Linked DNA regions of Homo sapiens. The protein of the gene in region 2 interacts with the protein of the main gene of each other region in a pairwise test. Each region holds a gene or a part of one and is shown on either strand. Other genes may lie near its edges. The genes, in order: TDG, AICDA, DNAJA1 and DNAJA2.

Evidence for each region.
Region 1: the proteins of AICDA (region 2) and TDG interact in binary tests that used the Homo sapiens proteins (3 or more experiments, as listed by UniProt).
Region 3: the proteins of AICDA (region 2) and DNAJA1 interact in binary tests that used the Homo sapiens proteins (3 or more experiments, as listed by UniProt).
Region 4: the proteins of AICDA (region 2) and DNAJA2 interact in binary tests that used the Homo sapiens proteins (3 or more experiments, as listed by UniProt).

What each region holds. Positions count from the first base shown.
Region 1 is NC_000012.12:103,975,872-103,982,871, reverse strand, and holds part of TDG (G/T mismatch-specific thymine DNA glycosylase), read right to left. Parts: intron 5,955-7,000; coding exon 5,812-5,954; intron 3,042-5,811; coding exon 2,800-3,041; intron 2,718-2,799; exon of another isoform or gene 2,245-2,717; intron 1,980-2,244; coding exon 1,910-1,979; intron 74-1,909; coding exon 1-73. UniProt on the Homo sapiens protein: DNA glycosylase that plays a key role in active DNA demethylation: specifically recognizes and binds 5-formylcytosine (5fC) and 5-carboxylcytosine (5caC) in the context of CpG sites and mediates their excision through base-excision repair (BER) to install an unmethylated cytosine.
Region 2 is NC_000012.12:8,602,464-8,610,063, forward strand, and holds part of AICDA (single-stranded DNA cytosine deaminase), read right to left. Parts: intron 4,550-7,600; coding exon 4,402-4,549; intron 3,023-4,401; coding exon 2,752-3,022; intron 2,460-2,751; coding exon 2,344-2,459; intron 1,875-2,343; coding exon 1,821-1,874; 3' UTR 1-1,820. UniProt on the Homo sapiens protein: Single-stranded DNA-specific cytidine deaminase. Involved in somatic hypermutation (SHM), gene conversion, and class-switch recombination (CSR) in B-lymphocytes by deaminating C to U during transcription of Ig-variable (V) and Ig-switch (S) region DNA.
Region 3 is NC_000009.12:33,019,913-33,028,347, reverse strand, and holds the start of DNAJA1 (dnaJ homolog subfamily A member 1), read right to left. Parts: upstream 3,076-8,435; 5' UTR 2,965-3,075; intron 1,874-2,964; 5' UTR 1,864-1,873; coding exon 1,732-1,863; intron 1,536-1,731; coding exon 1,358-1,535; intron 1-1,357.
Region 4 is NC_000016.10:46,963,419-46,971,018, forward strand, and holds part of DNAJA2 (dnaJ homolog subfamily A member 2), read right to left. Parts: intron 4,747-7,600; coding exon 4,666-4,746; intron 4,229-4,665; coding exon 4,095-4,228; intron 1,390-4,094; coding exon 1,193-1,389; intron 1-1,192. UniProt on the Homo sapiens protein: Co-chaperone of Hsc70. Stimulates ATP hydrolysis and the folding of unfolded proteins mediated by HSPA1A/B (in vitro).

The DNA.
Region 1 (7,000 bases), about 95 Mb from region 2:
TTCCCTGGTAGAGTGTGATCATCCATATGGTTCAGCTGGACCTCACTGAGCCCTGACATAAACAAACACTTCCCTGTAAAATGAAAATTCAGTTATTTATTTTTTTTTAGACAGGGTCTCGCTCTGTCACCCAGGCTAGAGTGTAGTGGCACGATCATGGCTCAGTGCAGCCTCGACCACCGAGGCTCAAGCAATCCTCCCACTTCAGCCTCCTGAGTGGCTGGAACCCCAGATGCACACCACCACGCCCAGCTAATTTTTGTATTGTTTGTAGACAGGGTTTCACCATGTTGCCCAGGCTGGTCTTGAATTCCTGGGCTCAAGTGATCTTCCCACCTCAGCCTCCAAAATTGCTGGGATTACAGGTGTGAGCCACAGCGCTTGGATTTAATCATCATAATTATCTTGCAAGATACTATTATTATCTCCTTTTCACAGGGGGTTGAGGCAAATGCCTGCCCAAGAATATATAGCAACTCAGTTTAGGAAACTTTGAGACTATTTTGCTTTACAATTGGTGATACCACCACCTCACACGTAAACATACAGCACTAGACTAACAACATTCAAACACCTTGACAGTGAAGAAAGTCAAAAGTCCAAACTTCCCTTAAAAAGGAATTTTTTAAAATAATAGGGACAATATGTTATTATTAGTTCCAAAACCACATTACTATCAGTTGCCCTAAATGTTTTGAATGTTACTATTAGATAATCAATTTCCTGAGCGTATACTGCATACACTGATCTATTAGGCAGTATAAAATAAGATGATTTATATACAAGACAACTTATATAGAGAAGGCAATGCAACAGTAGTTACGCTTGTTTTTTGTTTGTTTTCTTGTTTGTTTTTGTGATACAGGGTCTAGTTCTGTCACCTAGGCTGGAGTGCAGTGGAGTAATTATGGCTAACTGCAGCCTCAACCTCTCAGGCTCAAGCAATTTTCCCAACCCAGCCTCCGTAGTAGCTGGAACTACAGGTGTGCACCACAGCACTCAGCTAATTTTTTATTTATTTTTTTGTAGAAATGAGATCTTGGTATGTTGTACAGGCTAGTCTCAAACTCCTGGCCTCAAGTGATCCTCCTGCTTTGGCCTCCCAAAGTGTTGGGATTACAGGTGTGAGCCACCAGATCCAGCCAACACTTGGTTTTAAAACTTACTCTAAAAATATGAGTCTTTACTACTATTTTATGCTCTGCTAGAAAATAATCACCAGAAATCTGGGAAAGTTAGTATTATGTCTGCACTGCCACAAAGATGTACTATACTATCGTTACTATGCCTATAGATAACAACTTTTAAAAAATCATTTTTAAAAAGTAATACAACTTGGCTGGGCGTTGTAGCTCACGCCTGTAATCCCAGCACTTTGGGAGGCTGAGGTGGGCAGATCACCTGAGGCCGGGAGTTCGAGACCAGCCTGACCAACATGGAGACACCCCGTCTCTACTAAAAATACAAAATTAACCAGGCGTGGTGGTACATGCCTGTAATCCCAGCTACTAGGGAGGCTGAGGCAGGAGAATCACTTGAACCTGGGAGGTGGAGATTGTGGTGAGCCGAGATCGCGCCATTGCACTCCAGTCTGCGCAAAAAGAGCGAAACTCCATCTCAAAAAAAAAAAAAAAAAAAAAAAAAAGTAGTACAACTCATTAGAAACAATTCAAACAAAAGAGAAAGTACTCTTATTCACATCCCTCCATTCTCATAGACTAAAATGTTAACAGTAACATATCATTTCAAACTCTCTTATTTTCACGTACAGACACACACACAGAACATGAAACACGAATGTGTATTTACAGTCTCTTTCTTTTTAAAAACACAATTGGTTTTTCTGAAAAAACCTGTTAACAAAGATACCTAATTTAAAAGTAAATTAATTTAAAAGGTAACCACTTACAAAAATGGTTTCCAGGTCCAGGGTAATGATGCCCTTTGTAAGCAGCCATTAGTCCCGGGTTTATGCCAATCTATAAAACAAAACAATTAGACATTTCATCTTAAAAAGCAGGACCTAAGCCTTAGCGTTTCTATGGAGGAGTGGTGGACAAAATTGAGTTGATTAAAATACAAATTTAATTCAGCATCATAAGCAATATCATTTATCAATTACTACTCTTGATCTGAACAAAGTATTTCATATATGGGAAAGAGATTTTCTTTATTTTAAAAGTTTTGCTGTTATTTTAAAAAACCAGTTTGACTCCTTTATGATCCCAGGCCTCGCACCCTCACCAACTGGGCTGCTTTGAGTCTGGAAAGACAGGTCCTGGAACAATCAATCTGAGCCCATGTCCAGCCACAATTCTGATTCTCAACTTTCAACAAGAAGCTCGCTCCACATCACCTACACAATTGTTCACATGCTGATGTTTCTTACAGTTACTGAGAAAAATAAGAGCTTAAAATTAGTGCTGCCATGTATCAGGTCTCCACAGGCATCATTCAGTTGAAGTGATTCACATGGATTCTCTCATTTACTTGCAACCCTATCGGGGGGTGGTATTATCACCCCTGGTTTATCAATGAGAAAACCGGTGTTTAGAAAGGTTAATAAGACTTATCCAAGATTATACTTGTGACAGGATTTGAACCCAGACAGTCTAAATTTGGAGCCCACCCTCTTAAACACTCTCATATAACACAACCTCATGAAGCTGACACCATTTACCACCAAAAGGATTCTTAGAAATGGTCCTTTTCAGCAAAATGCTATTTGCAAGGACAACTGTTAAGTAAAGCTGATCCCCCAATACTACTTATAAAATCCAACGAGGACAAAGATCTTACAATGACAATGTCCAGATTGAAGGTCAAAATATCGGGGAGAGTCTTGGTCAGAAGTTCAGCTTCTGAAACACCATTAAAACGGTCTACTTTTCTTTTTACTTTAAATGTGTCTGTAATTTTTTCTTGTTTTTCTTTTGATTTTGCAGACTTGCCAGATTTTTTTGACTCAACAGGTTTTTTGGGTTCCACTGGTTGTTTTGGTTCTGTTGTTCTGGGTTTTCTTTTTCTTCCTTTTGGAGCCTCTGAAATACAAATAATTTCCAGAAATGCAGAAAATCTTAACTTAGAAACTTTAGCAGCTTTCCCAGAAAAGTTACCCAACTAGCACCTTTTGTACCTGTCTCCCCAAAATTAAGCTCTTACAGTCCCAACATGAGTCTCCTCTGCAATATCTTCCCTTTCTTTCTCCCTAGAACTGGGTTCGTGCAACCCCCCATGCCACTCTCCTTCCCCTGCTAGCTGTTCGTGGGAAGAATAATCATAGACTATTATTTTCGACACAGTATTACTTGGCATCTTAACCTCCTCAAGGATACAAAGTATCTACATATCATTTTATATAAATTCTAAATGTAAATACATAAATAATTAAATAAGAACAGAAAAATAGAGAAACAGGAAGGAAGGGAAACATTTTAACTCAACTTCCCCAGTAGAAAACCACAAATGGGCCAGGTATGGTGGCTCATGTCTGTAATCCCAGCACTTTGGGAGGCCAAGGCAGGCAGATCACCTGACGTCAGGAGTTCAAGACCAGCCTGGCCAACATGGTGAAACCCCCGTCTTTACTAAAAATACAAAAATTAGCCAGGCATGGTGTCGTGCACCTGTAATTCCAACTACTCGGGAAGCTGAGGCAGGAGAATTGCTTGAACCCAAGAGGTGGAGGTTGCAGTGAGCTGAGATCATGCCTCTGCATTCCAGCCTGGGCAACAGAGCAAGACTCTGTCCAAAAAAAAAAAAGAAAGAAAAAAGAAAAACACAATGGCTTGTGGGCTTGTTTTAGAGATGAGGTGTATATTCTGTTCCATACATAGTTGAAGAGGGGAATTTAGGGGTGCCCAGGATGACATCTCTGGGCTGGCAGTATTTTTCAAAAGGCAAGAGGAGGGATCCAACCTCAGGACGTAAAGCAGTTTCTCAGCCTCCACACTATTGACATTTTAGGTTGCATAATTTTTTGTTGTGGGTGGCTGTACTGCACATTACAGAATGTTTAATAGCACCCCTGATCTCTACCCACTAGATGCCAGTAGTAACCTGCCAGTCTTGATCATCAAAAGTGTCTTCAGACAATGTCAAATGTCCCTTGGGAGGGCAAAATCACCCTTGATTGAAAACCACTGACCTATAGTTACCCAACAGGAAGCCCTGATTTTCTTACCCTTAATTATTTAACATTTCTCCTAACTACTCAGGCTTCTACCCTATTCTACTCCTCTTTGGCGTTTCCCCAATCAAGCCTCGCAGGATACAGGCAGTCAGTCCCTCCTCTCTTCTGCCTCACATTGTCTTAGCCACTCCCTATGCCAACAGATCCACCATCACTGGCATGTAGCTGGGGAAGTCCTAATGCGGAGGCAGAGTTATTAGATGTGTTCCTGCAATCATAAACCAAAACCCTGAGCACATTTCTCATAAAATACTGTTACACTGGAGAAAATCATTAACTTCTCTCCAACCACTCTCCCACCCCTGGAACCTATTATTTTCTTCTAATTCTCTGTCTTGGTGAGTGGCACCTCCTCCAACCAAATGCCAATGCCAGAAACCTGGTAGTTACTTCTGGACTCCCCTTTCTCCCCCACTATCCTGCCATGCTCCCCCCAAACACATGAAACCCATTAGCCATGGCTAGGTAATTCTACCTCCTAAGTGTTTCCTAATTCTTTCTCCACCCCTTCAGGTCCTCCTCAGTGCTCCCCTAGATTATTCAAACAGTGTCTCTAATCCATCTAATCCACTCCTTGACTCCAAGTTTTGTTTTTGTTTTTGTTTTTGTTTTTGTTTTTGAGACAGAGTCTCGCACTATTGCCCAGCTGGAGTGCAGTGGTGCAATCTTGGCTCACTGCAGCCTCTCAGCCTCCGCCTCCAGGATTCAAGCAATTCTCGTGCCTCAGCCTCCCCAGTAGCTGGAATCACAGGTGTGCGCCACCATGCCCGGCTAATTTGTGTGAGGCAGGGTTTTGCCATGTTCGCCAGGCTGGTCATGAACTCCTGACCTCAGGTGATCTACCCGCCTCAGCCTTCCAAAGTGCAGGGATTACAGGTATGAGCCACTGTGCCCGGCCTGCCTCCAAGTTCCGACTTGTTGTCTACCAACCAATCTATCTTCTCTAATATTTCCAGGCTAATTTGTAAAGCACCAGTCAAGTAAGTCATCCCTTGCTTACATTCTCTCAACAGCTCCCTATTGCCTTCATGATAGAATATAAATTCTTTGGGATTAAAAAACAAGTTTCAACTGTCCCCATCCAGCCTCACCTCTCACCATTTCCTTGTTATATCCCAGACTCCAAGGACACAGAATTGCTCTGTTTCTGGCCATGCCATGCTTGTGTGTGTCTGTACCCAGCCTGTATAGCTCCCTCAGCCTGGACATGTCCCTACTCTGATCTTTATCGGGATGAAGCCTCCACATTGTTGGAGTTTCAGAGCCCTGGTGTTATTTCTCTGCTCTGGGAAGCAGCCTCTGAGCCATCAGTCTGAGTTAGAAGCCAACCCCATAAGCTTTCAGGGCATTCATTCTATGCCCCTCTTCACTACAAACTGTGCTGAGCTGTAACGTGTATTTACTTATTACTTTTCTCTACTAGATTATGAGATATTTTTGGGCAGGACCCATGTTCTTTTATTCCCCAGAACCTATCAGTGCTTAGCACATACTAAGTACTTAAAAAGTGGATTTGACTTTTTAACACTAAAATAGAGCTAAAATTCACCATGAAACCCTTTCTCAAATAAGCTGGCTGATCCGATGTTGAACTTTCTAAGCTCTCATGGTGAAACTACCTTGCACTGGTTCCTGAGCAGGAGCTGGGGCTGGAACTTCTTCTGGCATTTGCTGTTCATTCACAACTGCCATATTAGGAGCTTCAGCCATCAGTTGTTGAAATGGAAACGTATAAAAAGCTTGAGCTTGCTGAAGGGAATAGCTGAAAGAATAATGAAGCATGAGATGTAATGATAAAATTACCCAAATGTAAATCCAAATGATCAGCTGTACAAAAATCTTCAGTACAGTATTAAGTATTTTGTAACCAGACTGAAGTATTTATTTAGAGTGGATTACAGAGGAGAGATCTAGTCCTGTATGTACATGTTCACCAACCTTTACTGAGTGCTTAATAACCAACCATTAACTCTTGCACTGTTTAAATGATAAGATGTGTCACTGATAAAACTGATCAGTCCTGTCAAGTCAGCCCATACTTTCTCTGAAATAAGATTTGAGGGAGTTTTCTAGTAGACAGACTTGAAAGGTCTATCAACCCATACAGGGTTAAGATGTCCCCAAATACAATTTGTGCCCCTACTTTCCTTCAGTATTTAATCACCTGAAGATCCCCTCCAATCTAATTAAGATTCTCTTTTAGTTTATTTTTATTTGCCTGTTTACTTATTTTTTCATTAGTTTGTGTGTGTGTGTGTGTGTGTGTGTGTGGGGAGACAGGGTCTCCCTCTGTCACCCAGGTTGGAGTGCAGTAGTGTGATCTTGGTTCACTGTTACTTCTGAGGTGGGAGATCTCAAGTGATCCTCCCACCTCAGCCTCCCAAGTAGCTGGGACTACAGGAGCGAGCCCCAATGCCTGGCTAATTTTTGTAATTTTTGTCTAGACAGGGTTTTGCCATGTTGGCCAGGCTGGTCTTGAACTTCTGAGCTCAAGAGATCTGCCCATCTCAGTTTCCCCAAGTGCTAGGATTACAGATGTGAGCCACTGCACCCAGGCCTATATTTGATTTTTATTGATGGTGGTATTTTTGTTTTGTTGGGGCTAGGGCTTTTTTTTTTTGCCACTGCTATGGTTTGAATGTGTCCCCCAAAGTTCACGTGTTGAAAACTAAATCCCCAATGCAAGTGTTGAGAGGTAGGACCTTTATGAGGTGACAAGGCCGGGCACAGTGGCTCACACCTGTAAACCCAGCACTTTGGGAGGCCGAGGAGGGTAGATCACCTGAGGTCAGGAGTTTATAACCAGCC
Region 2 (7,600 bases):
TGTTAATAAAAAATCATTAGACGCAAAATAATATAAAATATAAATGAATACATGAAGTAACAATTTTTAACTCTTTTACAAACTTATGTACAATAAGATTAAAATAAGACAGTTGTGCATTCAAGTTTTCCTGTGGATCTGCTCATCTTCATTGCAAGGGTTGCTAGGTAATAACGGCACAGGGATATGGTTATTCTGAATATTTTTCTCACTGTCAAAGACAGTTGTTAGGGACAAATAGACACCAAAAGAGACAAATAGGGATCCCTTATTGGCTCCTTACATTTTGTTGGATAAAGCACAATTTCCTTGCAATGCTTCCCCATCCTTCTCTCCCAAATATTGTTCTCTTTCTCTCTCTCTCTCTTTTTTTTTTTTTTTTCTGAGACAGAGTCTTGCTCTTGTCGCCCAGGCTGGAGTGCAACGGCACGATCTCAGCTTACTGCAACCTCCACCTCCTGGGTTCAAGCGATTCTCCTGCCTCAGCCTCCCAAGTAGCTGGGATTACAGGTGCCTGCTACCACGCCTGGCTAATTTTTGCATTTTGAGTACAGACGGGGTTTTGCCATGTTGGCCAGGCTGGTCTCAAACTCCTGACCACAGGTGATCCGCCCGGCTCGGCCTCCCAAAGTGCTGGGATTACAGGCGTGAGCCACCACGCCCGGCCCTCTCTCTTTCTTTTTTTTTTTTTTTTTTTTGAGAGACAGGATCTTGTTATGTTGCCCAGGCTGGCCTTGAACACCTGTGTTCAAGCCATCCTCCCTCCTCAACCTCCCAAGCAGCTAGAACTATGAGCGTGTGCCACGGTTCGCAGCTTTATCATTCTGTTTTGTCACAACTCTCTTATATAGTTAATATACCTTTGGGAGAAGCATCACACACATACAAAATGTAGCAAACCTTGACCTGATTGGCATTTCTGAGATGAAGAGACCCACGAGAGCCAATAGATTTTCCTCTCCCCAACATTCAAGCAACTTCCTTCCAATTGTTTGCTAATTATGATATGTGAAGTTTGTGGGTGTTTCTAAATTAGGGACTTCCTTAAAAGAGTTTGCGTTTCCAGAAGATTTGCTACTTCAGACATCAACCCATTATTAGGGTGTCTTGTTCACAGTCCTCCTGCCCATTTTAAGATCCTTTATTAAAGTAGCTTGAAGGTGACCATGCATGGTCTATACCTCCATCCCCACCCATAACAATCTTCTTTTGTACAAACATAAAAACATGCTTCTGCTGATTAAAACATACAGCGCATGATTGGATATTAATGCTTTGGAGAGATGGTTTGGGGTCACAATCACCCAGATACTCTCATTAGGAGGTCCTATAGATCATGGCCTGATGGAAGAGTTTGTGTTACTTGAAAGTAAACGTCAAGGGAAAAGAATAGAAAAATCTATCACTAACACCACTGTTAACTCAAATGAATCAAATAATAAAGGATGTTGATATAAAAACATTTGATCCTCTCACCATGCTTTTTAGGATCTACCTTCTGCTCTCATCCTACCTAAAAGTCATAGAAAAACGTTGACACTTTAGGATGCTCCCAGGTCCTGCAGTTCTGTTATTCCCAGTAGGGGACAATGTTGCATTCAAAACTGCACCAATTGCAGCACGTCCCTGGCCAGACCTGTGTTCCTTCTCTATTTTCAAGACATAGATCTTTTTAAAGAGTCGTATATAAATATTTTTTCTGTAAACTCTAAGAAAGTGAGAGTTGAAGAATAAAAACAGAGAAGACTTGAAGGACTGTTTTTTATCCACTGTCTTCAGCAGAGATATTTCATCGTGTGTGACATTCCTGGAAGTTGCTATCAAAGTCCCAAAGTACGAAATGCGTCTCGTAAGTCATCAACCTCATACAGGGGCTGTAGAGAAAGAGAGAAGCAAATTGAGTGAATGGCTTCAAAACGAGGTTGGGGGTCGGTGGGGCCGGAGAGTCTTCTAAACTGAGTGGATGGCTTTGTAACATGTTGGAAGAAAGTAAATTGGGAAAGAGTTTTTTTGGGTTTTTTGTTTGTTTGTTTAAAAAAAAAAAAAAAAAAAAAAAAAAAGGAGAAAAGAATTCTGACCAGGAAGGAAACGCAACCCTGGGGAGAGACAGAAATTTAAAGATGTGAAACAACAAAAGAAAGAAAAGGGAGGGAAAAGGAACCTTAGCAGAGGGCTCTGAATGGTGAAACAGCAGAAGAAAAAGCTGATGTGGAGGAGAAATAAAGTTTTCATCAGATGAAAACTGAGAGTGATTGAACAATAAGAAAATATAAGAAATATACGAAACTCCAAAAAAGACTGTAGAGAAAGAAAGAAAATTTAAAAAGCGAGGAAGCCCCTTACCAAAAGGATGCGCCGAAGCTGTCTGGAGAGACGAACTGAATTTTCATGCAGCCCTTCCCAGGCTTTGAAAGTTCTTTCGTGGTTTTCTACAAAAGTATTCCAGCAGTAAAAATAATCTTCAAAAAAAAAAAAAGGAAAAAAAGGCGGGGATATGGGGGTAGAAGACAGTTCAGGTTCCAAATCGAGGGGAAAGAAGCAACCCTGGCCCCATTTTCTCATTTCCTCGGGGCCTTGTCTCTGAGCCATTCACTCTTTTCTCTGCTTCTAATCTTTAATTTCGGCTCCAGAGGTGAACCAGAATCCCCGCCCACTTCTTCCCCTCGAGCTTCCCCACTAACTCATTCATTCCGCATCGCAATCCCGAATGCGGGCTGCTGCACTGCGCCTGCGCGGAAGGCCCTTTCGCACCTTTGAAGGTCATGATGGCTATTTGCACCCCGGCGCGGTGCAGCCGCCGCAGCCCCTCGGGCTCAGCCTTGCGGTCCTCACAGAAGTAGAGGCGCGCGGTGAAGATCCTCAGACTGAGGTTGGGGTTCCCTCGCAGAAAGTCGGCCACATGTCGGGCACAGTCGTAGCAGGGGCTCCAGGAGGTGAACCAGGTGACGCGGTAGCAGCGGCCAGGGTCTAGGTCCCAGTCCGAGATGTAGCGGAGGAAGAGCAATTCCACGTGGCAGCCGTTCTGGAGAGACAGAGAGGACCACGCTAAAATTCACTGACTTTTATTGCGGCTCTGGTAGCCTTAGTCATTGTCTCCTGCAATGATCTTTGGGGATGCTTGCAGCTATTGTCCTTGTGTTACAGAGAGGCTAAGCAACTTGCTCAAAAGAGCACACCAGTAGGTAGAGCTGAACCCTTGGCAGCACTAGTCCTGCAGAGTGAAGGAAGGCTATGGGTTTTTGTGGAATGAGGAAGACGAAGTGCGCTGAGTTGGGAGGAAGCAGCATCACACTACCTCACCGAAGATTTAATTTGTGTTTATGAAGTTGCTTTTTGCACCTTTTGAGAAGGAAAATGGCTAGAAGTGCCTGTTGATGTAACATTGTGGAAATATACCTGGACCACTAGGTGGAGGCAGGACAGTTTATGAGGACCATTTGGGAGGATCTGAAAAGGGGAAATAGATTTTGGTAAAGCAGACAGATGGGTATTGTAAGAGAAGTAATAGGCACTGCCATGAGAAGTAAATGAAAGTGCTTGATAAAATCAAAGCCTTCTGAAATAGAATGTGTCATGTCACCGAATAGGAAGGAGATTGGGATGTATTCAATACAAATGTAGGCAAAGAAAATTGCATGGTAATATAACCATCAAACAACGAGCCAGACGATGACCTTCCACCCCACGGATGCTTCCCTGAGATTCCACCAAGCCCAGACGTCACAGCGTGTTAGGAGAGAGGAGATACCCGTGGGCAGAAGTTTATGTAAACCCATCTGGATTTTGGTGAAGAAGTCTCTTGGAAATGTAATTCTCTCGGGTAGCCGAAAGATCAATTTAATTAATCATCAGCCGAGGCTTCTCTGAGTTTTCTGGGGATCACCATGTTGAATGTATTCACTGGCCTACGACCCATGTGAGTAGGAGGGAAAAGAAATCATTTGGAAGACAGAATTGAGCCACCGTTAATTTTTTCCCAAATTCTTCTTCCTTAATTTTCAAAAATGCTTAAGACACAATTTGTTTTTCACATTTAAAATTTTTGCTTGGACAAGCTGATAATATTCTCCCATATAAAAATGCTTTTAGCTTAATTAATCTCAAAGGCAATTCAGATGCTGAGGAAAGCTGGTAAACAGTTTGGGAGCAGTTGTTCTTGGCACTGAAGGAAGGAGTGGTATTAGGGTGCCCAGCATTACTGGGGAGGAATTAAATCACATATTTTGGGCCATGTCTAATATGGGTGCATGGACATGGAAAAAGAAATAAAAAAAAGGATTTGAGGAATGTGATAGAGACACAAATGCCAAAAAAGGATGGAAGTAATACCATCAGCAGGTGGCTCTAAAAGCACTCACAGTTGACCATTAAACTGCTTGCAAAGCCGACTTTAATTGATACCTTATTGCGAAGATAACCAAAGTCCAGTGAAAAGGATGTAGCACTGTCACGCCTCTTCACTACGTAGCACAGGTAGGTCTCACGCCGACCCTTAGCCCAGCGGACATTTTTGAATTGGTAAAGAAACTTCCTCCGGTTCATCAAGAGGCTGTGGGTGAGAGGAGGGAGAGAAAATGCAAGAGTACAGTTTATAATCTGGTCACTCTGGATTTTCCTTCAGCTTTTTAAGGAAGTCATTACTTGGGCTAAACCAAAGAAGATGCTCTGACTTCCTCTGCTGGCTGCCTGAGCCCTCCTGAGCCCTGCTGAGCCTGGAATCCATCATAAACTCCTTTTCCTGCTTATATTTAAGGCCAATTGAGAGATACTCATCAAGGACCCCAAACCCTTACCCACAAGACAGTCACCTCCTGCCACTGTCTTCTAGATGCTGATGACTTGGGATTACAATTAAATTTGTTCTTCAACAAGAAAACGAAACAAAAAATAAAATAAACTTGTTCCTCAGTCCCATAATTGTATATTCAGATTTCCCCTCCAGTCTTTACCTAAGTGTCCAACTTGTACCTCAAACTCAAAATGATCAAAACAATATTCCTCAACTGCCCCCTGTCCTAAACTGCCACTCCTCCCGACTTTGCCACCTCAGGTAAGCAGCCTAGCAGCCTGGAACCATCCTTGACTCATTTCTTATTCCTCAGTCCTCATATTTAATTAATCATCTAAATGTGTTGATTCAAACCCCCCAATATTTCTTGAATTTGTACCTTCCCTGTTTGCTCTTCTCTGCTTCGGTCCAAGCCCTCATCTTCTTCCTCCTTATCTGTTGTGCTGGCCTTTTAACCGGTCTGTCTGCCTCCAGTCCCTCCAAAATAACATTCCCCACACTGTCACCACCATGATCTCACAAAAACCAGGTGCACCATGCCATTCCCATGCTGAAGACCCCCTGATGGTTCTCTTCTGCCTGCAGAATAAACTCCAAACTCTTTAATGTGGTGTTTAGGCCACTTTTTACAGTTGGATCTTGATCTAAATTTCTTTTTTTAAATTTTTTTTTTTTTGTTACGGTCTCACTTTGTCGCCCAGGCTGAAGTATACTGGCATGATCTTGGCTTACTGTAGCCTCAACCTCCCAGGCTCAGGCAGATCTGCCAGGCTCCGCGGATCCTCCTGCCTCAGCCTCCTGAGTAGCTGGGATTACAGGCGCCCACCATCATGCCCAGGTAATGTTTGTATTTTTAATAGAGACGGGGTTTCACCATCTTGGCCAGGCTGGCCTTGGACTCCTGACCTCGGGTGTTCTGCCCGCCTTGGCTTCCCAAAGTGCTGGGATTACAGGCGTGAGCCACTGCACCGGCCTATTTTTTAATGTATAAGAGCAATACCTGGCTGGGCGCAGTGGCTCACACCTGTTTTTTAATGTATAAGAGCAATACTTGGCCGGGCGCAGTGGCCTACATCTGTAATCCCAGCACTTTGGGAGGCTGAGGCAGGTGGATCCTCTGAGGTCAGGAGTTTGAGACCAGCCTGGCCAACATGGTGAAACCCCATCTCTACTAAAAATACAAACATTAGCCGAGTGTGGTGGTGGGCGCCTGTAATCCCATCTACCCGGGAGGCTGAGGCGACAGCTTTGCTTGAACCCAGGAGGTGGAGGTTGCAGTGAGCTATGGTCATGCCATTCCACTCCAGCATGGGCAACAAGACCAAAACTCCATCTCAAAAAAAAAAAAAAAAAAAAAAAAAGAAAGAGTAATACTTGATCATTGTCAAACTTGAATACTATGGAAAAATAGAAGAGCTCTAAATTTTAAAATATTAAAGATTTTTTAAATCTCAAATATCATAGTGTCTAATAATAATAATTAGACTTAGTGTCTAATGACAATGACTGTTAAGATTCTTGTGTTTATTCCTCTAGTCTTTCTACAGGCACATATTTACATGATTTGGATTATACTGATTGCATGTGTGATTTTGTACTCTGCTGCTTTTTTAACTAGTCAAAATGATCTAAATATCTTGCTATGTTGTTCCCACATAATGACTGATTTCTCCTCCTCTTTGTTTTCTGGCTCCTAGCACAGTGTCTTGCATATCATAAGCACTAATTTGAATAGCATTTGTGGAAATACTCTGGTAACCCAAGTTTCCTTAAAGAAATCAAGAGTCCCCATTGCAGCTGCAGACAGCAACACAAGCTGTACAGCATGGTTGATATGAAAGCACAAGTGATGCCTGGATTTTGTCCCTAGTCTTTTCCAGAAATGCATTTATCCAATTTGTGGAGCTAGTGCTGTCACCTAATGGTACGGGGCAGAAGTGCAGAGAATTTGCGAAGTAAAGGGCTCAGGAATTTGAATAACGTTTGCTGGCAAGAGAATTGAAAGTTTTCTTACACATTATTTTTTCTTACATTGAGGTATAATTTACATACAGTAAACTCCACCCATTTAAGATGCATAATTCTACGAATATTTTTGGATGTAAACACCCCAAACTGCTACCACAGTCAGGATACAGAACCTGAATCACCACCCTCACCCCACCAGAGCTTCTTCCCTCTTTGCAGTCCTTCCCCTCCCCACAGGACAACCACTGATTTGCTTTCTTTTTTTCCCATTTTTGTGGAGAATGGAGTTTCACTGTGTTGCCCAGGCTGGTCTTGAACTCCTGAGTTCTAGCAATCTTCCCACGTGGCCTCTCAAAGTGCTGGGATTACAGGTGTGAGCCTCTATGCCTGCCCTGATTTGCTTTCTGTAACTATAAGTTACTTTCATTTTCTAGAATTTCGTATGGCATACATTATCTCCTCCTTCATGTCTGACTCTTTCATTTAGCGTCATGACTTTGGGATTCATCCCCAAGTAGCTTCTTTGTACTGCAGGGTGGTATTCCATTGCATGGATATAGCACATTTTGTTTATTTGTTCACTTGTTGATGGATATTTGGATAGTCTCTACTTTGGGGTTTTGTGAATAAAGGTACTATGAACATTCACGTACCAGTCTTTGTGTGGATATACATTGAGAATTGATATTTTAATAATGTAGTGCAGGTGACAGACCCTGACTTTAAAAGTTAAATACCAAAATATCAGCCTAACTAAGTAGCTCATCTAGGACAACAGCTCTTTGTAGTTGTTTCCATTTATTTTTAATTTTTCTTCTTATTTTTTTGAGGCAAGGTCTGGTC
Region 3 (8,435 bases), on a different chromosome or scaffold from region 2:
ATAAGCAGTATTTCTAGAGCCCATAGGCCACTTTCCTGATAAACATATTAAATACATAATTTTGACACAATAAAGCTGAAACAAGAATAGATAGATGGCAGGCAACGAACCAGTTTTCAGCCCTGGCTCTGTTGGCTTGCTATATGAGCTTGAAGAAGTTTTAGGTTTCTGAACTTTAACTTACTCCCATTTGAAAAAGGCCACTGTACCTACCATCAAATTCCTTTGGGGAGTGAGGGAACACCAAATAAGATCTGTAAAAAGGGCTTGGAAAATTATATTGCTATATACTTTGTCTTTTTTTTTTTTTTTTTTTTTTTTTGAGACAAGAGTCTCGCTGTGTTGCTCAGGCTGGAGTGTAATTGGGCGATCTCAGCTCACTGCAACCTCCACCTCCCGGGTTCAAGCGACTCTCCTGCTTCAGCCCTCCTGAGTAACTGGGATTACAGGCACGCACCACCATGCCTGGCTAATTTTTGGATTTTTTTGGGTTTTTTGTGACAGAGATTCACTCTTGTTGCCCAGGCTGGAGTGCAGTGGCGTGACCTCCGTTCGCTGCAACCTCTGCCTCCAGGGTTCAAGCGATTCTCCTGCCTCAGCCTCCAGAGGAGCTGGGATTGCAGATGCCCACCACCACGCCCAGCTAATTCTGTAGTTTTGTAGAGATGGGGTTTCACCATCTTGGCCAGGCTGGTCTCGAACCCTGACCTCAGTGATCCACCCACCTCGGCCTCCCAAAGTGCTGGGATTACAGAATGAGCCACAGCACGCGGCCTGTTCTCATAATTTGTTTGATAATATCTAAGATTTTTGGAAGCAGTCATTTGCTACCACTCTGTTGGCTATTTTTTAGGCCCCTTAAATCTCATTTTAAAAAAAGCGACACCACTGGCTGGGCATGGTGGCTCACACCTGTAATCCCAGCACTCTGGGAGGCCAAGGCAGGTGGATCACCACCTGAGGTTTGCAGTTCAAGACCAGCGTGACCAACATGGTGAAACCCCATCTCTACTAAAAATACAAAATTAGCCGGGTTTGGTGGCACATGCCTGTAATCCCAGCTACTTGGGAGGCTGAGGCAGGAGAATCGCTTGAACCCGGGAGGTGGAGGTTGCTGTGAGCTGAGACCACGCCATGGCTCTCCAGCCTGGGCAATAAGAGGGAAACTCCGTCTCAAGAAAAAAAAAAAAAAAACCACAACAAAAAAACACGACACCATAAATCAGAGGCAATTTGTGGTCAGTTTGCAACATTATACCAACATGTAAACAAGCATTTAAAATGGGTGATTTCTCAAAGATCTGCTCTGACCAACAGCTAACTTTAGTTAGCTGCACAAAGACTAGATTCTTCTTACCTCTCCTTTCTCTCTGCATCCTTCCTCCTCCTCCAAAAAACATATCAAAGATGTCCATGGGGGAGCCAAAACCGCCACCTGCTCCACCCTCTTTAATTGCCTGTTCTCCTCCTTTGTCATATAATTCCCTTTTCTTTGCATCAGAGAGAACTTCGTAAGCTTGAGAAATCTGTTTAAACTGTTTGAGAAAAGAGGAGTGAATTTCATTTTTTAAAAAACAAGTGTTACCTAGCTACATTACACTTGATCTTAGCTAAAAAGGCCGAGAAGTGATCATAGTTACTATATTAGATACTCGATTTCAGGCCATAATAGAAATACTATACGTCTGGCAAAGAACTATTCAGATACGTTTAAGAGTAGATACTATTCACCTTCTCTCCTTCATTTGGGTTCTTATCAGGATGGTACTTCAAAGCCAGTTTCCTATAAGCCTTTTTCAATTCTTCCTGAGTAGCATTGGGTTTGACCCCCAAAACATCGTAGTAAGTTGTTTCTTTCACCATCTTCTACTGCCTGAAATAAGAAAATGCAACTTTAACCGGCTTTCAACTGGTAGCTTTTAATAAAAAAGAGAGCTAAGGCCGAGCAATCTCTTTGCAAAATCCGATTATAAGAACACCACCTTCCCTAAATTTCACCAAAAAGGTAACAATTCCTGCGATAATTCAGCTATAAACTCGAACAGACAAAACAAATAATCATTATCGGGAAATAATCTGAGAGCCGCCTTCTAGCAGCTGGTTCCAATTTTCCTACACCAAAGCTTCCATACTAATATAACACAACTATTATCTGGATTCTTCCCGTTTGCCCTAGAGGCGGTGACAGTTGTAACCAAAAGAAGCACTGATATGTTCAGTCTACCGGTCATTACACTATCACTGTCTTTGGCAAATCTGATAAACTCCATATACTCTCCAGAAAAAGACGTCTGGGCACACAGTGGTGGGGGGGAGTGGTTTATAGAACAGGTTACTGGCTCCACACAGCAAGCCCTCCACCGCCCACGGCTTACAGCTTCTCCAGCCGAATCCCTCTCGCCCCTCAGGCTGGCAGAGTTTACCTGCCAGGTTTCCCCTTGCACTTGGCGCTGACCGATTTCCTTCCTTTCTCCCTCCCACCCTGGACCCAAGTGGCGGTGGGGAAAGCCCAGCCCTCAACAAACAAAGGGAGGGGAAACAGAGAAAGCGAAACCAAAAGCCGCAGTCTCCGCCCGGCTCCCCCCGCAGCCCCTCGCCCCTGCCTCCCTGTGCGCGTGCGCAGGGTCGCCAACCCCACTCCCCCCCCCCACCCCGAGCGAGCACGGACGGGGAGGGGGGCCGCGGGGGCGCGCACGGAGGGGCAGCCGAAGACAGTAGCTCCTTGGAGATCCCAGGCTGGGGAAGGAGGGAGGTCTAGGAAAGGTCTCGGGCCCATTCACTGTGCGTGCCGGGGATGGGTTGCCAGGGCACCACACCAGCCCTCCAAAAGGGAAATCGTGGGCCCAGGAACTGACAGCGGTCCTACCCACGCGGCCAACTGCCTCCCGACCGCGGCTCCATCGGTTTCCCGGCGCCAATGGCGCCAGCCAGGGGACTAGGGGCAGCGCGAGGGCTCAAACTCACCGGTGCGGGCTGAGGCCGGTGTGTGAGGGAGCGGGAAGGAGCGCCGAGCTGTGCGCAGCCGGGGTAGTTACCGCTCCTCCGCCTCTCACCGAGCGTTCTGGAAAGTTCCGCCCGGCGCGCCGCAGCCGTCCTCTTTTGTAGCCGAACCCGGGCGCGTCACCCGCCGGAAGTCCCGCCCTTCTCGGCCGCTGCCACCGCCCCGCCGTTACCTGGGCAACGGCGCGGGGGCGCACGGGTCGGGAGGAGCTGCGCCGAAAGGCCTTGTGGGTGTTGGTGCTAGCGCGGCTTCCCGGCGCTCGTGGAATCTTCTGGAGCCCTTTTCTCCACTCAGCGAGCCTGAGAGTGCGGAAGTCTCCGGCTGGTGGGGCATGGCCCAGGAGCACTGCAAGTCCTAGGGTTCCCAAACCTGTGGGGTGGCCGCCTGGGCCCGCGAGGGCGGGAAGGGCTCGAGTACAGTGACCCAGCGGGAGCTGTGTGTGAACGGGAAAGCTCTTGGAACAGTCTTGCCCCCCCCCCCCCCCCTCTTACGGGCGCCTCTTCTCTTTTTGGGAACGTGGCGAGCAAAAAATGCTTGAGCCAGGTGGGTCTAGTCCCCAGACCAATAGCATAGGCCTTGGGTCTTGCTGTTTTTCACGCGTGGTCCAAGGCGGCATAATTAATCAAATTGTGAAGTTGTTAAGGCTTTTTGTGCAAGTCCAGGCCCCTAGACACATGTTATCTGCCCTGGACCTCGCTGATTCGTGCAGATTGAGCTCAGTGTGTCTGGGACTGAGCTAAACAGTGAGACGTTTGGACCGTCTTTGATGTACAGAGGGCCGTGGACTCCTCTGGTCAGGTTTTCACCCAGTTTGGCTACAGAGTAGCCGCAAGAGTGTCTGACTAAAACAATTTGTTTAATTATTTGACCTCACTTTTAAATCCTACGGGTCAGGGAACCTGGATGTACAATCTGCAACGTAAGACCTCGGACTTGAAAATGGTACCACGGGGGCTTAATGGGAATTGGGGTCCGCTTCTTTATCCAGGGACACAGCAGGTATGTCAGTATCTAGCACCAAGAAAGATGGAGTTTGCCACGCTCGGTGGCTCACGTGTGTAATCCCAGCACTTTGGGACGCCAGCGTGGGCTGATTGCGTGAGCTCAGAAGTTTGATACCAGCCCAAGCAACATGGTGAAACCCCGTCTCGATTTAAAACAAAAACAGAACTGGAGATGCAGAGTTGAAAAGCCCCAGTTAGACTTTAGTGAGAAGCCAAACAAGTCAACAGACTGCCAGAGAAACCATGAGGTAGAAGTCAGTAGGGGAGAGCCTCCTATATTAACCTGATAGATCAGAGAGAATTTCTTTGGGAAAGTGGCAATTGAGCTGAGTTTTGAAAATGGGAGGAGAGCAGTGGACAAAGCACAGGGGAAGGCTATACTAAGGTGTGGAAGAATATGATGTTTTTAGGAAATTGCAACTAATTGGATATAGCCATAGCTAAGGGAGCTAGAATAGCCGGAGGTGAGGCTTCAAAGCTAGTTAGGGCATGCCTTTGTCTGTTGGTATATATGCTACGCTAAGAATTTTGAACTTTATCCTTGGAAGCATCCTCATGCTGCCTCTTCAGCCTTTTCTCTTTCATTAATTTTAACTGTGCATTCCAGTCACAGAACTATCCGCAGTTTCCCATATACGCCTTTTCACCTTTGTATGCTTTTGCATTGGCTGACAGACACCTGATTTTTTTCAATCTTAGGTGTTGCCTTCTCAAGTATCACCTCTGGTATAAAGTTTTTTGTTTAAACCAACCGTTAATAAACGTCTAATATTACCAGGCAGTGTACTAGGGCTTTGTAATACAAAAATCACGTAAGTCAGGCCGGGCGCCGTGCCTCACACCTGTAATCCCAGCACTTTGGGAGGCCAAGGTGGCGGATCACCTGAGATCCGGAGTTCTAGACCAGCCTGGCCAACTTGGTGAAACCCTTCTCTACTAAAAATAGAAACAATTAGCCAGGTATGGTGGCACGTGCCTGTAGTCCCACCTTCTCAGGAGGCTGTGGCAGGAGAATCGCTTGAACCTGGGAGGCGGAGGTTGCAGTGAGCAGAGATGGTGCCGCTATACTCCAGCCTGGTTGACAGAGCAAGACTCTGTCGAGTCTCAGAAAAAAAAAAAAATCACATAAGTCGTGGTCCCTGCCTTCAAGGAGCTCACAACATAGGGAACCAGAAACAAACAGTTGAGTGTTAAATGCTAATAAAGGAAGAGTAGGGGGTGCATGGTGGCTCAAGCCTGTAATCCCAGCACTTTGGGAGGCCAAGGCAGGCGGATCCCTTGAGTCCCGGAGTTTGAGACCAGCCTGAGCAACATAATAAGACCTCGTTTCTACAAAAATTAGAGTTAGTGTGGTGGTGTGGGCCTGTACTCCCAGCTACTTGGGAGGCTGAGGCAGGAGGATGGACCTGGGAGGTCAAGGCTGCAGTGAGTGGTGATTGCACCACTGAACCTCAGCCTGGACGACAGAGCAATACCCTGTCTAAAAACGAAACTAACAAAAAAGTTAACACTTTTAAGAAGCATTCTTACGTAAAATAAAATAAAAAAACTGGCAATAACTTTGTATGTGGTCTTCGTTTGTACAGAAATGGGATCATTATACAAGCTGTTTACAGCTTGCCCTTTTCACTTTGTCATCTTACTATGCCAGGATAAATAACTAATCTGCCTTGTTATTTTTAATGGCGTAGTATGTAGGCACCGTAATTTATTCCCCTACTGATGAATATTTCAGCAATTTCCAGTGTTTTACAAACTGCTGCAGAGAAATTAGCAAATACAGCTTTGAGTACTCATGCAAGTATTTCTGTTGGATGGACAGCTAGAATTGAAATTGCTGAGTCAACATGAATGTAGATTTAAAATTGTAATAAATAAGTTTCCATACTGGTTTGTAACTGCTTCCAGCAGTGTGTGAGTGGGCCTTGCCAATATGAGGGCCTTTTGTTGTTAAATCTTTGCTAAGCTTGGAGATAAAAAGTGATATCTTATTGTTTCGAGTTTCTTTGTTAGTAAGTTTAACCATGTTTTAAATGTTTACTGACTCTCCTGTCAACTGTTCATATTATTTTACCATTTTTCTGTGGTGTAATTCCACTATTTTAATAATAGCCCTTTTAGGGGTAGATATTAGTCTGTCATGTGTTACAATTGTTTTCTTTAGTATATTCTTCGCTTTTTACTTAGTATCTATATATATATTTTTCGGCCATATAAAGATTTTAATTTTTATGTAGATAAATTGTGACTCTTCCTTTTTGGCCTTTTTCTTCTCTCCACCTTCCCCTTCATCAGTCCAGCATTATAAATATAAATCTGTTGTCCCAGGTTTACAGGTTAGGTCTAGTACTTTCATTGTTTCCCTTTTTTTTTTTTTTTTTTAAATTAACAGCCTTGATGTGTTGCCCAGGCTGGCCTCGAACTCCTAGGCTCAAGTGATTCTCCTGCCTCAGCCTCTTCAGTACTTGGGACTACAGACACCTGCCACTGCATCTGGAATCATTGTTCCATTTTAAACTTAAATTTTTTATTCCATCTGAAAGTTATTTTGGTGTAAGGACTGAGGATTATTTGTAAGTAACTGATCTTTATTTTTCTCCAAATGGCAAACTAGTTTGTCTAACACTAATCTTATTTTTCCTGACTAATGTGAAATCCGCCCCCCAACCTTTTTTTTGTATGTGCAGAGATAGGGTCTTCCTATGTTGCCCAGGCTGTTCTTGAACTCCTGGGCTCAAGCAGTTGTCCTGCCTTGGTGTCCCAAAGTGCTGGTATTATAGGCGTGAGCCACCACACCTGGCCACCACTTTTAATGTATACTTAATTTCCACTGAAATACATGGTACTACTTCCCTTCATTGTTCTTGCTTTTTAGAATATTCCTTGTATTTTTTTTAATATGTTTATTCTTCCAGAGGAACTTAGGAATATTTCTGGCAGATTCCCCCCAAATCCCATTGTGAGTTTTATTGTGATTACAGTGATTTTATATATCAGTTTGGAGAGAATTAACACATTTAAAATGTCGAATCTTCCTACTCATGAACATATAACTGTATATTTATTTTCTTCATTTTTTAAACTAGGTCTTCATCATTTCTTCTTAAATGTGTTACTAGGCATTTTTTGTTGTTGCTGTCATGGATGGCCTCTTTTCTTACCATTATATTTTATTTCAGTGGGATATTTCATACTTTCTTTTTTTTTTTTTTTGAGACAGAGTTTCTCTCTTTTTGCCCAGGCTGGAGTGCAATGGAGCCATCTCGGCTCACTGCAGCCTCCGCCTCCCAGGTTCAAGCGATTCTCCTGCCTCAGCTTCCCAAGTAGCTGGGATTACAGGCATGTTCCACCACGCCTGGCTAATTTTGTATTTTTTAGTAGAGACAGGGTTTCTCCATGTTGGCCAGGCTGTCTTGAACTCCCAACCTCAGGTGATCTGCCCGCCTCGGCCTCCCAAAGTGCTGGGATTACAGGCGTGAGCCACCACGCCTGGCCAATAACTCAATAACCACATGGCCGTAAGTGTTCATAGAGGTAGCTGGAGATGGCTGGAGGCCTGGCAGGAGCAAAGTAATAAGGGCTTGGGCATTATGCTAAAAAGTTTGAATTTTGTTTTGAAGGCTCTTGAGAGACACTGGAGGATTTTAGGGATGGGGTGATATAACCTGTGACAGCTGACTTTTTGTTTCTTTTCTCTTTCCTCATCTGTTCTTTCTTTTGTGAGGACCTGCCAGGCACTGCGCTAAACACTCTACAAACGTTGCCATATTGTTATCCTCACAGTAACCCTTGTTTTAGAGCTGATTTGATTACATTTAAATTTCACAATAATCACTTGGGTGCTAATGCGAAGGTTGGATTCTTAGCAGGTTTTTATGGTGAGCGATGAGATCAGAAATGATGAGGCCTAAATAGAAGAAATGGAGAGGGAGAAAAATAAACACAAATATAAAAACATGTAAAGTCTTCAGGTAGAGTCATGATGACTTGATGCAGAGGTAGGGAGGAGGAATGACTTCCAGCTTTCTGGCTTTAGCAACAGGATGGTTGGAGATCCCCTTCCTGGGGTAGGGAGCCCAGAAGGAGGAAGAAGCCAGGGTAGGAGCAAAATTGGGTGAAGGAAAAGGTGAGTCCAGGTTTGAATGAGTACAACTACAGCTATACTTTTTTCTTTAGTTTACAAAGAAAAGGAGTCGGAGCCAGGGCGGTTATGTGGGACGTGGATGCAGACGCAGGCGGAGGCGCCAACTGCGGGGATGGCTAGGGTGATCACAGCTGCCCCGGGGGCGCGGACACCCCGGCAGCTCCGGCCAGCGGAGCTCCCCCACCGCACGTGTCAGGTCCTAGCAGAAACGCAGCGTCTGTGGCCAAGGGCCAGGAATGCGGCCGCACATATTCACCCTCAGCGTGCCTTTCCCGACCCCCTTAGA
Region 4 (7,600 bases), on a different chromosome or scaffold from region 2:
AGCACTTTGGGAAGTTGAGACAGGAGGATCGCTTGAGCTCAGAAGTTCAAAACCAGCCTGGGCAATATGGCAAGACCCTGTCTCTACTAAAAATACAAAAAAAAAAAAAACCCCAAAAAACAAACAAACAAAAAAATAGATGGGCATGATGGTGCACCAGTTGTCCCAGCTACTTGGGAGGCTGAGATGGGAGGATTGCTTGGGCCCAGGGGCGAAGGTTGCAGTGATCCCAGATCACACCACTGTACTCCAGCCAGGGCGACAGAGCAAGACCATCTCAAAAACAAAAACCCCCCAAAACATACACTAGTGACCACATTCTTCAGAAGCTTCTAAAAAAATATTTTTTTTAAAAAAAATCCCAGAACCCTTTCAAGGATAGCTCACTTGGGTACCCAATAAGTAAAAACCAAATCGACAGAGCAGCAGAGTTTCACAGTGAAAATACAGGCTGCCTTAGATCAACTGGTCCAACACCCAGTGCCCTTATTTTCATAAACAAAGAAACTGAGACAGTAAGATTACCTATGGTTAAAGTGTTAGTCAATGACCAGGCCAGAGGAGAATCGCTTGAACCTGGGAGGTGGAGGCTGCAGTGAGCCAAGATCGTGCCACTGCATTCCAGCCTGGGTAACAAAGCAAGACTCCGTCACACACACACAAAAAAGACCAAGGCCAGGCGCGGTGGCTCCCGCTTTTAATCCCAGCACTTTGGGAGGCTGAGGCAGGCAGATCACCTGAGGTTGGGAGCTTGAGACCAGCCTGACCAACATGGAGAAAGCCTGTCTCTACTAAAAATAAAAATTAGCCAGGAGTGAAGAAGCATGCCTGTAGTCCCAACTACTCGGGAGGCTGAGGCAGGAGAATCACTTGAACCCGGGAGGCAGAGGTTGTAGTGAGCCGAGATCGCACCATTGCACTCCAGCCTGGGCAACAAGAGTGAAACTCCAACTGAGGGGCAGGGGGAAGAAACCAAGCCAGGACTAAAACTGACTCTTACAGTGCTTCTAACTGCACCTGCCTTGTTAGTCTTTCTTACACAAGCCCGTCTTAGGAACTCACCATGATGCCCTTAACTTCACCAGTGTTCAGTGTTGCTCCAGGGACTCCAAACAGATCTAACCTATTTCTCACAAGCAAGAAGTACTTCTGAATAAAACAAAATACAAAAAACTAAAAAAAGGAAAATCACCTCATGTTCTTTCTCCTGTAGCAAAAGAACAATGTCTCCGGGTTCCACTCCTGGGGCCTGGTCTGCTTCCCCAGTGAATGTAATTCTCTGTCCATGTTTCATGCCTTTGTCTACGTGGACTTCAAGAATCTTGACTTCTTTAATCACCTTCTTCCCTTCACATTTTTTACAGCGGTCTTTTTCATTAATTACCTCTCCTGGAAAGAGAAGTCATTGAAACTTTCAGCAAGAGTACTATACTGTACTCTTAATACCCTTATTCTTTAAATATGCTTTCTGGACTTCTTTTAATCACTACCTAAATTTTTATTCAAAGCAGCATTCTGAGGCCAAGCACAGTGGCTCAAGCCTGCAATCCCAGCATTTTGCGAGGTCAGGGTGGTAGGATCACTTGAGCTCAGGATCTGAGACCAGCCTAGCAACACAGTGAGACCTTGCCTCTACTACAAATAAAAAAAGTTAGCCGGCGTGGTAGTGCACACCTGTAATCCTGGCTACTGGGGAGGCTGAGGAGGGAGGACTGCTGGAGTTCGAGGCTGCAGTTAGTTATAATCATGCCACTGCACCCCAGTCTGGGTGACAGTGTGAGGCCATGTCTCAAAACAAAACAAAAAAAAGCACTATTCTGAATAACAAAAACTTACATCTTACTACTGCAGACTGCCTGAAGGACTCAGCTTCCCACTATTTCAGAATGTAATGTATCCATACCATGTTTAGGGCAACACAGCTTTTCTCTTATAATTATGGTATTAAAAAGCAAAACCGTGATTATACATATTATAGTGTGAAAAAACTGCGTCACTTTCTAATGGCTAATTACCAGCACATTTGAAGGCTTAGAAAGAAGTGTATAACTGATTATTTAGGGACTGTTTCTGTAACAGTACTTGTGCAAAGTATGTTCTGCAAAACACGTTCTTCAAAATGGTAATAGTGGCCGGGCATGGTGGCTCACACCTGTAATCCCAGCCCTTTGGGAGGCGAAGGCGGGAGGATCACCTGAGGTCAGGAGTTTGAGACCAGCCTGGCCAACACGGCAAAACCCCGTCTCCACTGAAAATACAAAAATCAGCCGGGCGTGGTGGCAGGCGCCTGTAATCCCAGCTACTCAGGAGGCCGAGGCAGCAGAATCACTTGAACCAGGGAGGCAGAGGCTTCGGTGAGCTGAGATCACGCAACTGCACTCTAGCCTGGGCAACAGAGCAAGACTCCGTCTCACAAAAAAAAAAAAAAAAGAAAAAAGAAAAATGTAATGGTACATGAGAAAGATTTCAGTTAACTTTGGTTTCTTGATAGTGGGAGTTAGCAATTATAATAAAATAAAAGCAGGCCAAGAGTGGTGGCTAACACCTGTAATCCCAGCCCTTTGGGAGGCTGGGGCAGGAGAATTACTTGAACCCAGGAGTTCGAGACCAGCCTGGGCAACGTGGCAAAACCCCATCTCTACAAGAAATACAAAAATTAGCTGGGCGTGGTGGCAAGCACCTATGGTCTCAGCTAATTGTGGGGCGAGGGGCTGAGGTGGAAGGATTGCTTCAGCGTGGGCGGTGGAGGCTGCGGTGAGCCGAGAGTGTGCCACTGCACTCCAGCCCAGGCGACAGCAAGACCCTATCTCCAAAAATAATAATAATTTAAAAAAATAAAGTAAAATGCCAAGACTCTCCAGGAAGGAAATATCATATGTAACTTCTCATAATTATCTCATCACTTCCAATAGCAATTTGGAAAAGGATGCTATTGAACTATACTGTCAAATATGGTAGCCACTATCAACCTGTAGCTACTTGTTTATGTTTAAATTAATTCAAATTTAAAATAGTTCTCCAGTCACACTAGCCACATGTGAAATATGCAGTAGTCACAGGTGATTAATGGCTACTGTACTGGACACTGCAGATACAGAACATTTCCATCATCACAGAAAAAAATTCTATTGGATAGCACTGCTCTAGAATGGCAGGGGTGGGAGGAGCTATGTGTTTTTATAATTAAAATTTTAATCAGAACACAGCCATATCCATGTGTCTGTGGCCATAAAAGCACTAAAAGGTCAGAGATGAGTAGTTGTGACAAAAACTATTTGGCCCACAAAGACTAAATTATTTACTTCTGTAAGGACAGCTTCAATCTCAAGATCAATTCTGAAAAGCTAACTAAAGGTTACAGTGAAATCTTCCACTTATCAGAATAACTAAACAACTACTTGTTTAGTTATTTATTATTTGATTATTTGTCCCTTTGTAGTTTAAAAGGTTCTATGTGATAAAGGAGATAGTCCTCCTATGGTGGTCATTCCTACAGAGAGAGTAAATAAAAGGTTATATTTGATAAAGAAGGAAATAGCAAAGGGACAAATAATCACCTTGCTCCTCTTTTCTGAATTAAAAAGAGTCACCTTTCACTAACACAATACAAATCTACTGTTTCTCTATGTTCACTGGGCTTAGGCATAATGGAGTAATTACTTTCACACTTTTATCTTTTATTTTTTGCAACAGGGTCTTGTTCTGTCACCCTGGCTGAAGTGCACTGGTATGATCACAGATCACTGCTCCCTCGAACTCCTGGGCTCAAGCAATCCTCCCGCCTCAGCCTCCCACGCAGCTGGGACCACAGACATGCCCTGAGCCCCTCATTACATATTTTTCCACACTTTTTTTTCCTATAGTAATGAGGTCTCCCTATATTGCCCAAGCTGGCCTCAAACTCCTGGGCTCGAGCAATCCACCTCTGTCTCCCAAAGTGCTGGAATTATAGGAATGAGCTAACGCACCCGGCCTCCTTTTTCTTTAATAAGATGTATACAAATACCCTTTGAAATAAAAAATTGTAAACCTCTCCAATATCTGCATTCCCAATCCATTCCAACATAAAAGCAGAGAAGTACTGGCACACATACCTTCTCCATTACAATCAGAGCACACAGACTGCATCTGTTGTACCATCCCTGGAGCCAGCTGTCTGATCATGATGCGCACACCTCGACCTCGACAAGCACTACACTTTTGGACAGCTCCAGACTTTCCGCCTTGGCTAAAGCAAGCACAAGTTATGCATTAGGTTTTTGTCCACAAACCACTCCAATAAGCTATGACACACAGAAATTGTGCTTTTACCTTCATCTTCAACCCCAATAACTTGTATTTAAATTGACTTCCAGAAGTATCAGAAAACATTCTGCTAAGATTTTTTTACTTATTTATTGAGATGGAGTCTCACTCTGTCACCCAGGCTGGAGTGCAGTGGCGCAATCTTGGTTCACTGCAACCTTCACCTCTCGGGTTCAAGCGATTCTCCTACCTCAGGTGATCCACCCGACTCGGCCTCCCAAAGTGCTGGGATTTCAGGTGTGAGCCACCGCACCCAGCCGTAAGTTTTAACTTATAACAATTTTTACGTGGTACAGACATTCAGTGTGATACTTAAAAGAACAGACAAAATGTACCCAATAAACCAGAAGACACACTTACCCACTGCATGCACTACAGAGCACATTCTTGCTAAGTTGTAGTTTGGTTGTCTTGCCATTATACAGATCTTCTAAAGATACTCTGGAAAGAAAAGAATCGGCTTCAATCAAATTTTGCCACATTTTGTCAAATACAAGATATAAGTAACAGCTGATACAGCAAATTCGTTATCAACTTTTAAAACAGAATTCAAAAACACCTCATAATCTCACATTAAATCAATTAAACTGAGGCTTATATTATGGCTCAAATTAACAGAAATATTTTATGACTACAGACAGTACATATATGATACCCAAAGCCAGAGCCTATAGCATCAGGCCAACAATTTGCTGTGGTGGAATTTCTGATAAAGCTGATGACTTCGCAAACTCAAATATCACAACCTTCTGTTCTGAGGCATAAGCCCTCCACCTAACTCCTAATAAAAACCCTTCAGAAGAGGTACAATTATTATTCCCATTTTATGTGATAAAACTGAGGCACAGAACAGTCAAGTAACTTGCCCAAGATCACATAGGTATCTGGCTCCAGAGTCCCTGTTTCCTCCATGGACAATTTAGAAAGGCTACAAAGTTATATTTCGGCTTAAGGGAGTCACTTAGATGGCATATGTCTTAAAAAAAATAAAAGTGGCCCTACCTATAGTATGACAGAAAGGAGGGATAGAATAGTTTTTCATGCCAGGTGCAGTGGCTCATGCCTATAATCCCAGCACTTCGGGAGACTGAGGAGGGAGGATTGCTTGAGCCCAGAGTTCAAGACCAGCCTGAGCAACTTAGAGAGACCTCATCTTTACCAAAAAATAAAAAATAATTAGCCAGGTGTAGTGGCATGTCTGAAGTCCCAGCTACCCAGGAGGCTGAGGCAGGGGAATTGCTTAAGCCCTGGAGATTGAGGCTGCAGTGAGCTGAGATCGTACCACTGCACTCCAGCCTGGGGGACAGAGTGAGACAAGTACTTATGTGTGGAGTTTTCTACTTGTGGCATCATGATGGTGCTCAAAAAGTTTCATATTTTGGAGCATTTCAGATTTCAGATTAGTAATGGTCATCCCGTAATGATCTGCTTTAAAATCCTGGGAGTTAGAGGAACAAAAAAATAGTTTAAAGTATTTTACAAAGCACCTATACTATTTTGTGATATTCAAACTTTCTTAAAATTGTTATTCTCAGAAACTTAAAACTGTTGTAGGCAGGATAAGAATACCACACGTATGGACAAAACATTACCAACAACACTGTCAAATAATGACCTATCAACAGCTGAGCTTTAGACCAAAACGCTTGTTGCATCTTGTATACTCTGCATAACAAATCATTTAAAGAAAATCGGCTTTCTTCCCCTACATATTAAATTACAATTGGTATGCACAACCAGTATCCTAAGCCAGAGAAAAATACACATCTCAACAAAGAAGGCCAAGGAAGGAAAAATGCAGGTAATGGTTTGGCAAGGCTGGCACTCTCCACTAGTGGGGCCTAAACTGGCACAATCCCTCTGCAAGGCAATTTAGTTGTATTTATCAGCCTCAAAACACTCATGCCTGCCTGGGAATCTCTGCCAAGGAGAAACAAAGCTCTACATAAAGATACTCATAGCAGCAGTATCTATTACAGAGAAAAAACCTGGGAATACCCTATATAAAAGGTAAATAAATCATAGAATGCAGTATTATAAACATAGTATTTGTAATAACAGGAAAATCTGAAATGTTAAAACAGCAGAAAACTTTCACTATATAGCATAACTTTTTTTTAAACATGAAGAACTATAAAGTACAGACAGCACTCTTTTGACCCTATTTTCTTTTTAGACCATTTCTATATTAAAGAAAAATATAAACGAATTAACCTGCACTGCACAAATATTACCATTGGAATGGTATCCAAATGTTAATTTCTGAGGGTAAATTCTTTTAAAAAACAAATTTAAGGATTCAATGAGACTCAAAGTTAACAGATAACATGACTTCCTCTAATTTACTCAAGTGTATAAACTAGGATATTATGAAATATTTTAAATAAGTACCTGAACTTCGGCCACTGACATTTGCTAATAAAATCATTTATTGGTCCATGAAAAAAAGAATGGGAAAAAAGACCTCCCAGATTTTGCAAAGTGAAACAGCTATTTTCATACTGGAGAGGGCTTGTGGATTCACAGTCTAAGACCAAGGTCAGGCACCATTCATGTGTTGGCAGGTTAAGGTCAGGCTGGAAGCCAGCAAGCTCCATGGAAACCAACTCAGAAGAGTTCACACTGAGGATCAAGTAATGAGTGACTCTAACATGTACACAAAGTAGGCAGACAGTCACTCATTTTTAGTTTTTAAATAAAAGGTAACTTGGAAGATTCATATACTTCAAAGAAAATAGGCTGGGCGCAGTGGCTTATGCCTGTAATCCCAGCACTTTGGGAGGATGAGGCAGGAAGATCACTTGAGTTCAAGACCAGCTTGGCCAACATGGCGAAACCCTGTCTCTACTAAAAAATACAAAAATTAGCCGGGCATGGTGCGGGTGCCTGTAATCCCAGCTACTTGGGGGGCTGAGGCAGGAGAACTTCTTGAACCTGAGAGGAGGGGGATGCAGTGAGCCTAGATGGTGCCACTGCACTCCAACCCGGGCGACAGGGACTCCATTTCAAAAAAAAAAAAAAAAAAAAAAAAAAGGTCGGGCACAGTGGCTCACGCCTGTAATCCCAGCACTTTGGGAGGCCGAGGCAGGCAGATCACCTGAGGTTGGGAGTTCGAGACCAGCATGACCAACATGGAGAAACCCCATCTCTTCTAAAAATACAAAATTAGCCGGGTGTGTTGGCATATGCCTGTAATCCCAGCTACTTGGGAGGCTGAGGCAGGAGAATCGCTTGAACCCAGGAGGCAGAGGTTGCAGTGAGCTGAGATTGTGCCACTGCACTCCATCCTGGACAA